2 separate regions of the Homo sapiens genome follow, and region 1 is linked to region 2. The links come from fine-mapping of genetic effects on gene expression. A gene starts in region 2. The other region holds a variant in brackets. All regions are shown on one strand. Distances are from middle to middle. Region 1 overlaps CEP104 (centrosomal protein 104). Region 2 holds the start of CEP104 (centrosomal protein 104).

What was found.
Region 1: its variant is fine-mapped to the expression of CEP104 in cerebellum (GTEx, PIP above 0.99). The same link has a PIP of 0.9 or more in transverse colon.

The regions. Positions count from the first base shown.
Region 1 is chr1:3,828,489-3,833,861 of GRCh38, forward strand. It overlaps CEP104 (centrosomal protein 104), which reads right to left. Exons shown (of 22, transcript NM_014704.4): 13 at 2,558-2,734; 14 at 1,303-1,509; 15 at 778-885. Among named protein-coding and RNA genes, the nearest start is that of CEP104, 26 kb to the right of the region's middle. RefSeq lists enhancers at 830-2,029, 2,113-3,312. The variant A/G (reference allele first, on the strand shown) is at 3,033.
Region 2 is chr1:3,854,565-3,859,937 of GRCh38, forward strand. It overlaps CEP104 (centrosomal protein 104), which reads right to left and starts at 2,647. Exons shown (of 22, transcript NM_014704.4): 1 at 2,325-2,647. DFFB (DNA fragmentation factor subunit beta) reads left to right here and starts at 2,912. Exons shown (of 7, transcript NM_004402.4): 1 at 2,912-3,153; 2 at 4,154-4,280. The coding sequence starts at 3,040. RefSeq lists silencers at 2,314-2,813, 3,744-3,793 and an enhancer at 2,954-3,133.

The DNA.
Region 1 (5,373 bases), 26 kb before region 2:
ATTCGTACCCATTTCTTCTTTTAAAAATCTGTGGTAAGAACACTTGACATGAGCTCTGCCCTCTGAATAGCTCTGCGTGCACTGTGCAGCCACGTGGGCTGCAGGCCTGAGGTGCCAGCAGGTCCCAGAACTCATTCACCTGGCACGGCTGAAAACTCAGGTCTGCGGAACGGAAACTCCCTGTGTTCTGCCACCTTTATATCTTTTTTTTAAGGAAATTTTCTTTCAACTGAAGGAAACTTCATCATAAAATTAGTGTTATGAAGCTAATTCATATCCCAGAAGCTGGGAGGCTGAAGAGGAACACATTTATATTCAACCAAATAGTATTTGTTCCCAGTACATATGACACCCCCACAGGCTTAGAGTAAGGGCTCATAGAAACAGAATGTTTACCTGAAACCTTCCCTTTTTAATGCGCTGAAGTCAGACCTTTATAGTCAAGCTGATTTTTCTCCTTTGCCTCTGAAGGTGGCTGGAGAGCTGTGGAGGAGAGCAGCTCTGGGCCCACAGCCCCTGGTCCCTCCCTAAACCTCAGCAGCAGCTCACATCAATTCTGACAGAGGATGGAGGGGCAGGAAGAGTATCTGCCACCCAATTCCACCTCTCCATGGAGGGCTTCTGTCATCCACCCCAAAACTAACCTAAAAAACCAAAAGGAATCAAGACGCTCATTTGCATAATCCCATGAAAAATAAGTCAAGTATGATGTGGATCTATACAGCAAAATACATTTCAGCTAAAAGCACACAGGTGAAAGACGTGTTAACTTCCAACCTGAACTTCAGCCTGAATTTCTTTCAGTGCTGCCAGCTGCCCTTGTAAAGCTTTTATTTCTTCTTTCTTTTGTTTTTCTGCTTCTTCTGTAGCCGCTTTTCTCCGTGCCTGGTAAGAAAATTATTTTTCCATTAGAACAGCTTGTTAGGGTAATCTTAGAAACTGGGAGACAAATTATGGCATATCAACTATATTTCTTATAAATTATAATATTCACTAAGACTAATAACAAGTTAGAATAAGTCTTTTCCATTGATTTCATTGGTGTCTATTGATAGATAAACCCACTGTGTCCTCACGGCTATCGTTATTCCGTTTGCAGCCTGGGAACCTAAGGGTCTCACTGGCAGAAAGTGGAGCAGCCGGGATCTGAATGCGGGAACCTGTGTTCTTTCTTAGCCAGGACGCCGGGGCTTCCCATACATGTGGCTCCTTCAAATGACATATTTACTTATTTACGTACCGAGTAACTGAGTAACTTCTTCAACACAGGATGACATCACAACTTCACCAAAGTTAACTCACCCTCATCTCAGCATCTGTAGCTCTGCCATCTATTTTAGCAAATCCCTCAAAAATTGTTTTGTAGAGAATGTTCCTGCGTGTGTTGCTGTCGTCTGGAGGAAGGTACTCCAGGATGGAAGCCTGGTGCTGTCTGTACATGTCCAAAATAATTCGAACCGCCGTCTCGCGGACCTCATACACTCTATGCTCCAGGGCACTCACTGAAAACTAAAGTTGGGAGGGGCTCTTGTTACTCATTCTTAAAATAAAACTAATTTCTTCCAGCTTACAAAAAAGGTACATTATAAACATGTGAAAAATAAAAGAGAAAACATCCGTATTAAGTATTATGAAATACTTCAAACATAAAACCTCACGGATCTACCGTCTCATCGTAAGCCGTGTTATACTTTCATCACGCTTGTTTTGGATCTTTTTTAAGAAACAGAACGCTGTGGCTATAGTGCAATTTCATCCCTGCTGTGCGTCTCGGGGGCCCACAGTTTCTCATCCTCCTTGGAGGTGTGCGCTCCTGCGTAGCCGATGTGCAGATTTCAGGTTTTTGGATTTGGGATCCAAACCAGTAAGTATAATGGAAGTATTCCAGAATCCGAAAACAATCTGAAATCCTAAACACTTCTGGTCTTAAGCATTCCAGATAAGGGGCTTCAACCTGTACCTGATATTCTCCATCACACTGCTGTTATTGTCTCTTAAAGACAGGCCGGGCGCAGTGGCTCACGCCTGTAATCCCAGCACTTTGGGAGGCTGAGGCGGGCGGATCACGAGGTCAGGAGATCGAGACCATCCTGGCTAACACAGTGAAACCCCGTCTCTACTAAAATACACGAAAAAATTAGCCGGGCATGGTGGTGGGCATCCTGTAGTACCAGCTACTTGGGAGGCTGAGGCAGGAGAATGGCATGAACCCAGGAGGCAGGGCTTGCAGTGAGCCGAGATGGCACCACTGCACCTCCAGCCTGGGCGACAGAACGAGACTCCATCTCAAAAAAAAAAAAAAAAAAAGACAAAGAAATATTTTTTATGATTTGTTTCTCTCCACAGATAAAGATCTGCACACACCATGCACCACCGAGTAGGATTAGACAGCAGGACGCATGTGGGGGCCCCCATTTGTTGGATGAAACACTGGCTATTTTTCTGAAATCACTGCCTCAGTCATTCCTTCAACAAATGCCGATGAGACCCTCGCCACGCTCCAGGCACTGTGGTGAGTGCTGGGCCGCGTGGTGTGTCACACGCGAGGTCTGCTTACCTTCATCACGTTGTCAATGGTGAAGCCCGAGCTGCCAGTGCCCAGGTCTTTCAGCAGCCGGGCCAGGAGGCCCATCTGACTCATTGCCAGGTGAACTGAAGAGTTTGCTTTCAATGGCTGCACCAGGTAGGATGGAATAATTTGGAGAGACTTAACTTCTTTAAACAAGGCCATTTCCTATGAAAGCCAAGGTAATTTGTTAATTTTTACTGGAAAATGCTGGAGGCAGTTTAGTACAATTCAGCATGATCTTAAACTAAACACTGAAGGGAAAAACAGGGAAATACAGATTGATAGTGACAAGGAGCAATGAGAGCACTGATCCGTAAGCTTGTATTTCTATTTAAAGCGTAACAACCATTAGAAATGAAAATCTGAGCCACAGGAAATAAAATCATGAAGAATAAAACGATTTTATGTCTACTGAAAGCTTTTCAGAAGCGTAATTGAAAACTTGAAGGTTTCTGTTCTCAGT[A/G]TTCTCAGCTTCAAGGAAAAGGTTTTCTCATTTCTAAAATTCTAAAAGAAATTAGAGCTGCTGCTAGAATCACCGTTATTTTAGTATTTATTAAATGTCAGCCAAGAGTGTATGATTCTGCAGTGATACGGTCACCAGTGGGTTAAGATGGAAAAAATGTAAGTACCATTACATATTTGAATGTCTCTAAACAAACAAGTCTTTACGTAATTAAGATATTTATCACTTAATTAACCGGATATAGAGAAAAAAATAAGATGTTGAATCATTAAGTTACAATCAGAAATAAACCTGTTTCCAATAGGTCTGCAGGTCTTATCACCTAAAATAATCTCTTATCGTGCTGGCCTGACTCACTCTGGATTTGGGCCTGTGAGTGACTCTGTACAAATCTAAAAGCTAAGAGAAGAAGAGCATTCTCCAGGGAAGTTTGGACAGTAAACTCCTTAACTACAAACAGATGCTGTTGAGTGTGTATTTCGTCCACTAACCGGCACACTGGTGCACAATTGTAACCCTCGATAGATTGCCTTAAGGTTGTCTCACATAGAGAGAACATTTGAGCACCACCAAACTGCTCAGAAATTAATGTGGCTTAAAAATAATTAAATGAAGCAATAACATGTGCTCATTTGCAACATATCTTTTGAAAGATGAACCCTCCTCACCCCCAAATTCTAGCTGTCATAACCAGGAGTGTATTGTAGCACATTAGGTCGTAACCAGGAGTGTATTGTAACCAGGAGTGTATTGTAACCAGGAGTGTATTGTAACCAGGAGTGTATTGTAGGTCGTAACCAGGAGTGTAGTGTAGGTCGTAACCAGGAGTGTAGTGTAGCACATTAGGTCGTAACCAGGAGTGTAGCGTAGGTCGTGACCAGGAGTGTAGCGTAGGTCCTGACCAGGAGTGTAGCGTAGGTCGTGACCAGGAGTGTAGCGTAGGTCGTGACCAGGAGTGTAGCGTAGGTCGTGACCAGGAGTGTAGTGTAGGTCGTGACCAGGAGTGTAGTGTAGGTCATAACCAGGAGTGTAGTGTAGCACATTAGCATGACAGCATTTCTTCTTACCTTTTTATTAGCATTCCTTTTCCTTATTTACTCTGAAAATTTAGGTTTATTAAATGAAACTAGATCTGTGGTTCCTCATATTTTGGAGAAATGACCCCTTTGGATTCTTCTTTTTGAGACACTGTCTTTCTCTGTCACCCAGGCTAGAGTACAGTGGCGAGATCACGGCTCACTGCAGCCTCAACCACCTGGGCTCAAGCCTCTCGCCTCGGCCTTCCAAGTAGCTGGGACTACAGGGGTGTATCAGCATGCCCGGCTAATTTTTGTATTTTTTGCAGAGATAGAGTCTCACTATGTTGGCCAGGCTGGTCTCAAACTCCTGGGCCCAAATGATCTGCCTGCCTTGGTCTCCCAAAGTGCTGGGATTATGGGCGTGAGCCACCCCGCCTGGCCTGGATTCTTTTTTTTTTTTTTTTAAGATGGAGTCTCACTCTGTTGCCAGGCTGGAGTGCAGTGGCGTGATCTCGGCTCACTGAAAACTCTGCCTCCCGGGTTCGATTCTCCTGCCTCAGCCTCCCAAGTAGCTGGGACGACAGGCACGCACCACCACACCCGGCTAATTTTTGGATTTTTAGTACAGAAGGGGTTTCACCAGGTTGGCTAGGATAGTCTCGATCTCCTAACCTTGTGATCCACCTGCCTGAGCCTCCCAAAGTGCTGGGATTACAGGTGTGAGCCACCGTGCCCAGTCTGGCCTGGATTCTTTTTTAAGAAGGATCTGCACATCACAAAATTTTGTGTAAAACTTAACGTAATTCATAAGCTTCTTAAGCCCAAAGGAGGACTCTTAAGAACTCCTAGACTAGATGAATTCATTAGCTAGTTTAAAGATTTTCAAATTATGGTGCATAACTGTGTGCCCCAAAACTCATACATTTATCTCTATCTCAATATTTCCCATAATATCTAGCCTAGAGGAGGCATATTTGGTGAAAGAATGAAAATATTTCTATTAAGACAGTTATATTTTTTATTTCTTTACCCTCAGATTTTCTCTTTTGATATCATTTTCTGTGTGTTTTTATTTATTTAAAAAATTAATGGCATATGTTGGATAAAAAAAACATTGGAAAAACCCAACTGTAGATTTTAACTGAAGTTTATGTCTAAGACAAAACTGACCTTTTAGAGCATAAGGAAAGTGTGATGGTGAATCCCTGAGAATAATGTTAACTGAGTAGAGACAGAATCTTGTAAAAGGTGTTAAGAAAGCCAGAGAGCTACAGGAATATGTTTATCATCTACGGTTTCAAATGCCGTGGTGAAGTTCAGAC
Region 2 (5,373 bases):
TTCATGTGATTCTTGTGGTTCAGCCTCTCAAGTAGCTGGGATTACAGGCATGCACCACCATGCCTGGCTAATTTTTTTTTTTTTTTTTTTTTGGTATTTTAGTAGAGACGGGGTTTTGCCATGTTGGCCAGGCTGGTCTCGAACTCCTGGCCAATCTGCCCGCCTTGGCCTCCCAAAGTGCTGGGATTACAGGCATAAGCCACCATGCCAGGCCCCTTTCATCATCTTTCAGGGCAGGGCTTGTCACTCCCTATTCCACCTTGAAAATACCTCTTGTGCCCAGGCTGTTGGGTTCCAGTCTCCAAATTTTTTTTTTTTTTTTTTTGAGAGAGGGTCTCACTCTGTCACCCAGGCTGGAGTGCAGTGGCGTGATCGCGGCTCACTGCGACCTCTGCCTCCTGGGTTCAAGTGATTCTCCCGCCTCAGCCTCCCAAGTAGCTAGTATTACAGGTGCGCACCACCACACCCAGCTAATTTTTGTATTTTTAGTAGAGATGGGGTTTCACCATGTTGGCCAGGCTGGTCTCGAACTCCTGACCTTAGGTGATCCACCCGCCTCAGCCTCCCAAAGTGTTGGGATTACAGGCGTGGCCAATAAGCCCAGCCCCGATTTTTTTTTTTTTTTTTTTTTTAATACAGGTTCTCGCTCTGTTGCCCAGGCTGTACTGCTGCAGTGGCGTGATCATAGCTCACTGTAACCATGAACTCTCGGGCTCAAATGATCCTCTTGTCTCAGCCTCCTGAGCAGCTAGGACTACAGGCACATGCCACCATGCACAGCTACTTTTTTTTTTTTTTTTTGTAGGGATGGGGTTTCACTGTGTTGTCTAGGCTGGTCTTGAACTCCTCCCACCTTAGTGTCCCAAAGTGTTGGGATTACAGGCGTGAGCCGCCGAGCCTGGCTAGTCTCTGAACCTAACCAACACTCTCTGTTACGGCTCGAAGACATAAATATAGGACCTTTTCAGTCAAACAGAAGGGTGTTTCCAGTATGCTATACTGCCCCCAACAAATCTAAAACAAAGTACTGGCATTTAAGAACCAGCTAAGAGAAATGCACAGGGACTGTGGAGGCAATGCTATTACCTCAGTCTGGTATTTGAAAAGGATTCCTTTTTTAGTCTACCCCCTCCCAAAGACCTTCCAGTTGTACCCTAGGGTCCCCTCTGTGTAAACCTTCAAGTGTTACATAAGATACTTGGAATGTCACTGAAGGATGCCACTTTTAGGCTCTATAAAAATCACCATTAACAATTTGGGAAGAAGCAAAGCTCTGTTGAACATCCAGTTATTGGCTGGTCTTCCTCACCAGAGGCATGAGGGATCCCTGTTGTCCCAGGGGCAGCCATCGACATCCCGACAAATGCCAGAGTACATCTCTCCCCAGGCAGCGATGACTCCATGGCGGTCTCATCCCTCACTACACTTTTCCTAGTGCTGGCATGGTAAAAGGCAATTAACTATAAATTAAACGGAAACTCAGTGTAGCAACTTCCATTTTGTTACAAGACTAGGAAACAAAACTTGTCTCTGATTTTCTTTTTAAGAAGACTTTTAAGTGTGACTGCGCGCGGTGGCTCATGCCTGTAATCCCAGCACTTCGGGAGGCCGAGGAGGGCGTATTACTTGAGGTCAGGAGTTCGAGACCAGCCTGGCCAACATGGTGAAACCCCGTCTCTACTAAAAATAAAAAAATTAGTCGGGCTACTCGGGAGGCTGAGGCAGGAGAATCGCTTGAACCCGGGAGGCGGAGGCTGCAGTGAGCTGAGATCGTGCCATTGCACTCCAGCCTGGGCGACAGAGCGAGACCGTCTCAAAGGCTTATGGGTTTCTGATCAAGTCATCTTAGCGACTGAAAGGGCTTCAGAGAAATCTGAACTTAAGTGCAAACAAAACAAAACAAACTCCAAAACAAAAAACAACCAACCATCAGACTTTAATCTCTATAGGGACAGAGCAATTTTCCTCAAACTTTTGCTCAGCAGAACACATCTGAAACTGGCCCCCTATGTGCTACGCATCCAGAAGAGGAAAAGCCGGATCTGAAAACAATATTCCACGCTAAATGGGCCGTCCCGGCCGGGGCAGGCGGTCCCAGCACCCGTGCTGAGCTCCCCGGCATACGGCACGACGGGGCCGCGCCGGCTCTTCGGCGACAGCAAGGCCGGCATCTAACTCCACACCGTCCGCGCTTGCACCGCGCACCCAGGCTTCGTACCCAGCTCCCAGGTGGGGACCGCGCCCCCGCGGCGCCCGCGCCCCGCGCCCCGCGCCCCGCTCCCCACTCCGGCCCTGGGCCGGCGCCGCAGCGGCCCGGAAGGTACCTGCTTAGAGGGAAGGGCCCCGACTGGCGCTGCCGCGGCCCCGGTGGAGAGGGCGGCTGGGTCGGAGCGGTGCCGCGGCCCGGGGAGGCGGCCAGGCGGCGCCTCAGCACCCGGACCCCAGGGGCGTGCGGGACCCGGCTCTCGTGGACTTCCTCGGCAGCCGCCGCTTCCTCAGACGGAACTCGGGGGGCGCCCCTTCCGCCGCCCCAGGCCGCCTTGCACCCCAAGCTGCTGCGGCAGTGACAGGGAAGAAGCAGACCCGGCCACCTCTGCCCATAGCCCCGGCCGCAGCCTCCACTCTCATGACAACCAAGCCCAGCCCTGGGCCAGGGCCTCTGCGCGTGCGCGACCCCGCCCCACCCCAGGCCGCGCCTGCGCACAAGGGGAGGGCTCCGCTACTCTGGCCCTCAGGGTTGTGTAGTTTCCGGGGCCACGGCACCTGGGCACACCAGGTGGCGTCGCGCCTTTGCTTTCCTGAGCCTTCTGAGTAAGGTAATGTGGTGTCCGTGGGGCGACGCCTGCGCACAAGACCGCGTCGGGCCTCACTTTTCCCAGGCCTTCTGGGTAATGTAGTTTCCGGGATCGGCACCCGGCCTGTGCCAGCTTGCAGAGCTCACCAGGTGCAGACCCCTGCGGCCAGGGCGAGGACGGATCTGAGCAGCTGGGCAGCAGGTGCCACCGCCTGTGGGACCCAGAGGGCTTGAGGACATCTGCAATGCTCCAGAAGCCCAAGAGCGTGAAGCTGCGGGCCCTGCGCAGCCCGAGGAAGTTCGGCGTGGCTGGCCGGAGCTGCCAGGAGGTGCTGCGCAAGGGCTGTCTCCGCTTCCAGGTGCCCGCTGGGCTAGGCGGGGACGGCCCGTCGGGGAGGCGTGTGGGGAGAATAGGAGGTGCCGCTTTTCCTCTTCCAAAACGGAGGGTGCAGGCGGCGCCCGGGGCGGGTAGTTTTCGTTCGCCTCAGCCGCTAGGACCCCGGGCCCCCGCAGCCTGGGGTTCCTGAGCGTGGCTTCAGAACGCAGGGGGGTTGGGGGACGACCTGGATCACCCCTTCCCTCTTCCCACCTCTCGGGCAGGACAGCCCTGCATCAGAGCTAGGAGACCCGGGTAGAGTGCCAGGTACTGGCACGCGGGGTCACGGCTGCTCTGCCTGTCCGGCCTCAGCTTCCCCTTGAGTAACATGAAAGGCTTGGCTAGGTGGGCTCTGCAGGCCCCTTCCAGCCCTCGCAGCTGGGGATTGCAATCGTCACCTTATTCTAGGTTGGTTTTCTTTTTAGACCAGTACTAGGGTTACCAGGTGTGCATTGCCGGGGTCGGTGCGGGTGGGGTGGGAGTAGCCATAAAATGCCTAAAACTGACCAGTGCAGAGTAACAGGGAACCGGACTCCAACAAATTAACAGTGCCACGTGCCGGTCACACTTGTGCACAGAGGCAACCAACCGTTCTCCTTCGTGTGCCAGCACCGCTCTGGCGGCTGTGTGCTGGGGATGGTGGTGTTCAGCTCCTGGCAGCAGGGAGGCGGCGCTGTCAAAGACAGGCTCTATTTGAAGCGCCCTCAGGAGCTCATTTAAAAAGGGTGAATCCTGCAGAGCCAGCAGTCACCCCCTGATGTATGTTTTTCCTGACTCTTCGTATTTTAGAACGGCCCGCAGTCAGGCGCCCTTGCTCCCGCTCCCTCATCCTTGCCTGGGCGTTGGAGCGACTGTGGCATACAGGCGGCAGCCTGAGCCTGCTTCTTTAAGCACAGCTCATTCCGGTCGTTTGTGAGGCCTGCAGATGCAAAGCCCTCGTCTTGAGACCCTTCCTCCTCCTGTTGCTTCTCCCGTCCCTGCAGCTCCCTGAGCGCGGTTCCCGGCTGTGCCTGTACGAGGATGGCACGGAGCTGACGGAAGATTACTTCCCCAGTGTTCCCGACAACGCCGAGCTGGTGCTGCTCACCTTGGGCCAGGCCTGGCAGGGCTGTGAGTGGCAAGGACTTTGGAGGTGGGCGGGAAGCTGGCACTCTCCGAGGTCCTGGGGGCTTAGCTCCAGGTGCCCATCAGGGTGGGGAAGAGTCCCCCTTACTGTGAACTCTCGGGTCTCAAGGAGGAAGCCCTCTGGAGGCAGAACTGGTCAGCGTCGCTTAGGTGGCAGAGTCCTCAGTCCTCTCGTTCATGAACCCAGCTGTTCAATTGGTCGTCTTTTTCTTCAAAAAATCTTTTAATTTTATTTGCGTTCATTTGAGGTGTCCTAGCAATTCCCAAGAGCAGAGGGAGGGCTTTGGGGTTGGGGCCTGCACAGTTTCATGGGGAAGGTGGAGCCAGGAAGAGATGCTGTTCTGTTCTGCTGGGCTGAGCACCCTTCTGGAAGGACGAGGTGGTGGTTCGTGGGATGCTCTCACATTGTTCTCGGTTGGTGTTTGCTAAGATGCTGTCCTCAGGGCTCAAGTTTGGGGGCAATTGCTTTGAGAGGTGGTTCTTTCGGGGCATCTGTATTGAAGCCTCAGGACACAAAGTCCTGCCTTTCAGAACCAGCCGAATGCCAAGGTCTGCGCTTGTTTGACTCCCGTAAAAGAGAGCTTTTGGCCACTGGGGCAGGAGATGCCATCATGTGCCTTTACCTGGGAGGGTCGGCCAGTGTTGTGCAAATGGGGTCAGGCTCCAGGAGATGCTTCTGGCAGCCCAGGAAGGACATGGGTGCTCTGAGGGATGGAGCTGTGGCTCCTTGGCCTAAGGGGCAAAAAGAGAGAAGTCGAAGAGTAACATCCATGTGGCCACCTCCCCGGCTACAGTGTTGGGGGCTCCACTGTCAGCATTGAGGGGTGACGCCTCTGGTGTGTGCTCCAAGGTTGCAAACCCCCTTTCTCCACTGGGCCTTGTGCTTTTAGAGGAGGCAGCTGGAAAATGTATCACTGTGATGCCCCCTGGGGTGGCCCCTGCAGGAGGTGGGGGCTGGGCAGGGGTATGCTCAGGGTATGCCTCACCTTTGGATGTTATCTTTCTTTCCCATTTCAGGGCATAGTTGAAAGACAGCAGAGCACGTTGCTCTCTCTCTGTCTCTCCCTGCATCTCGCAG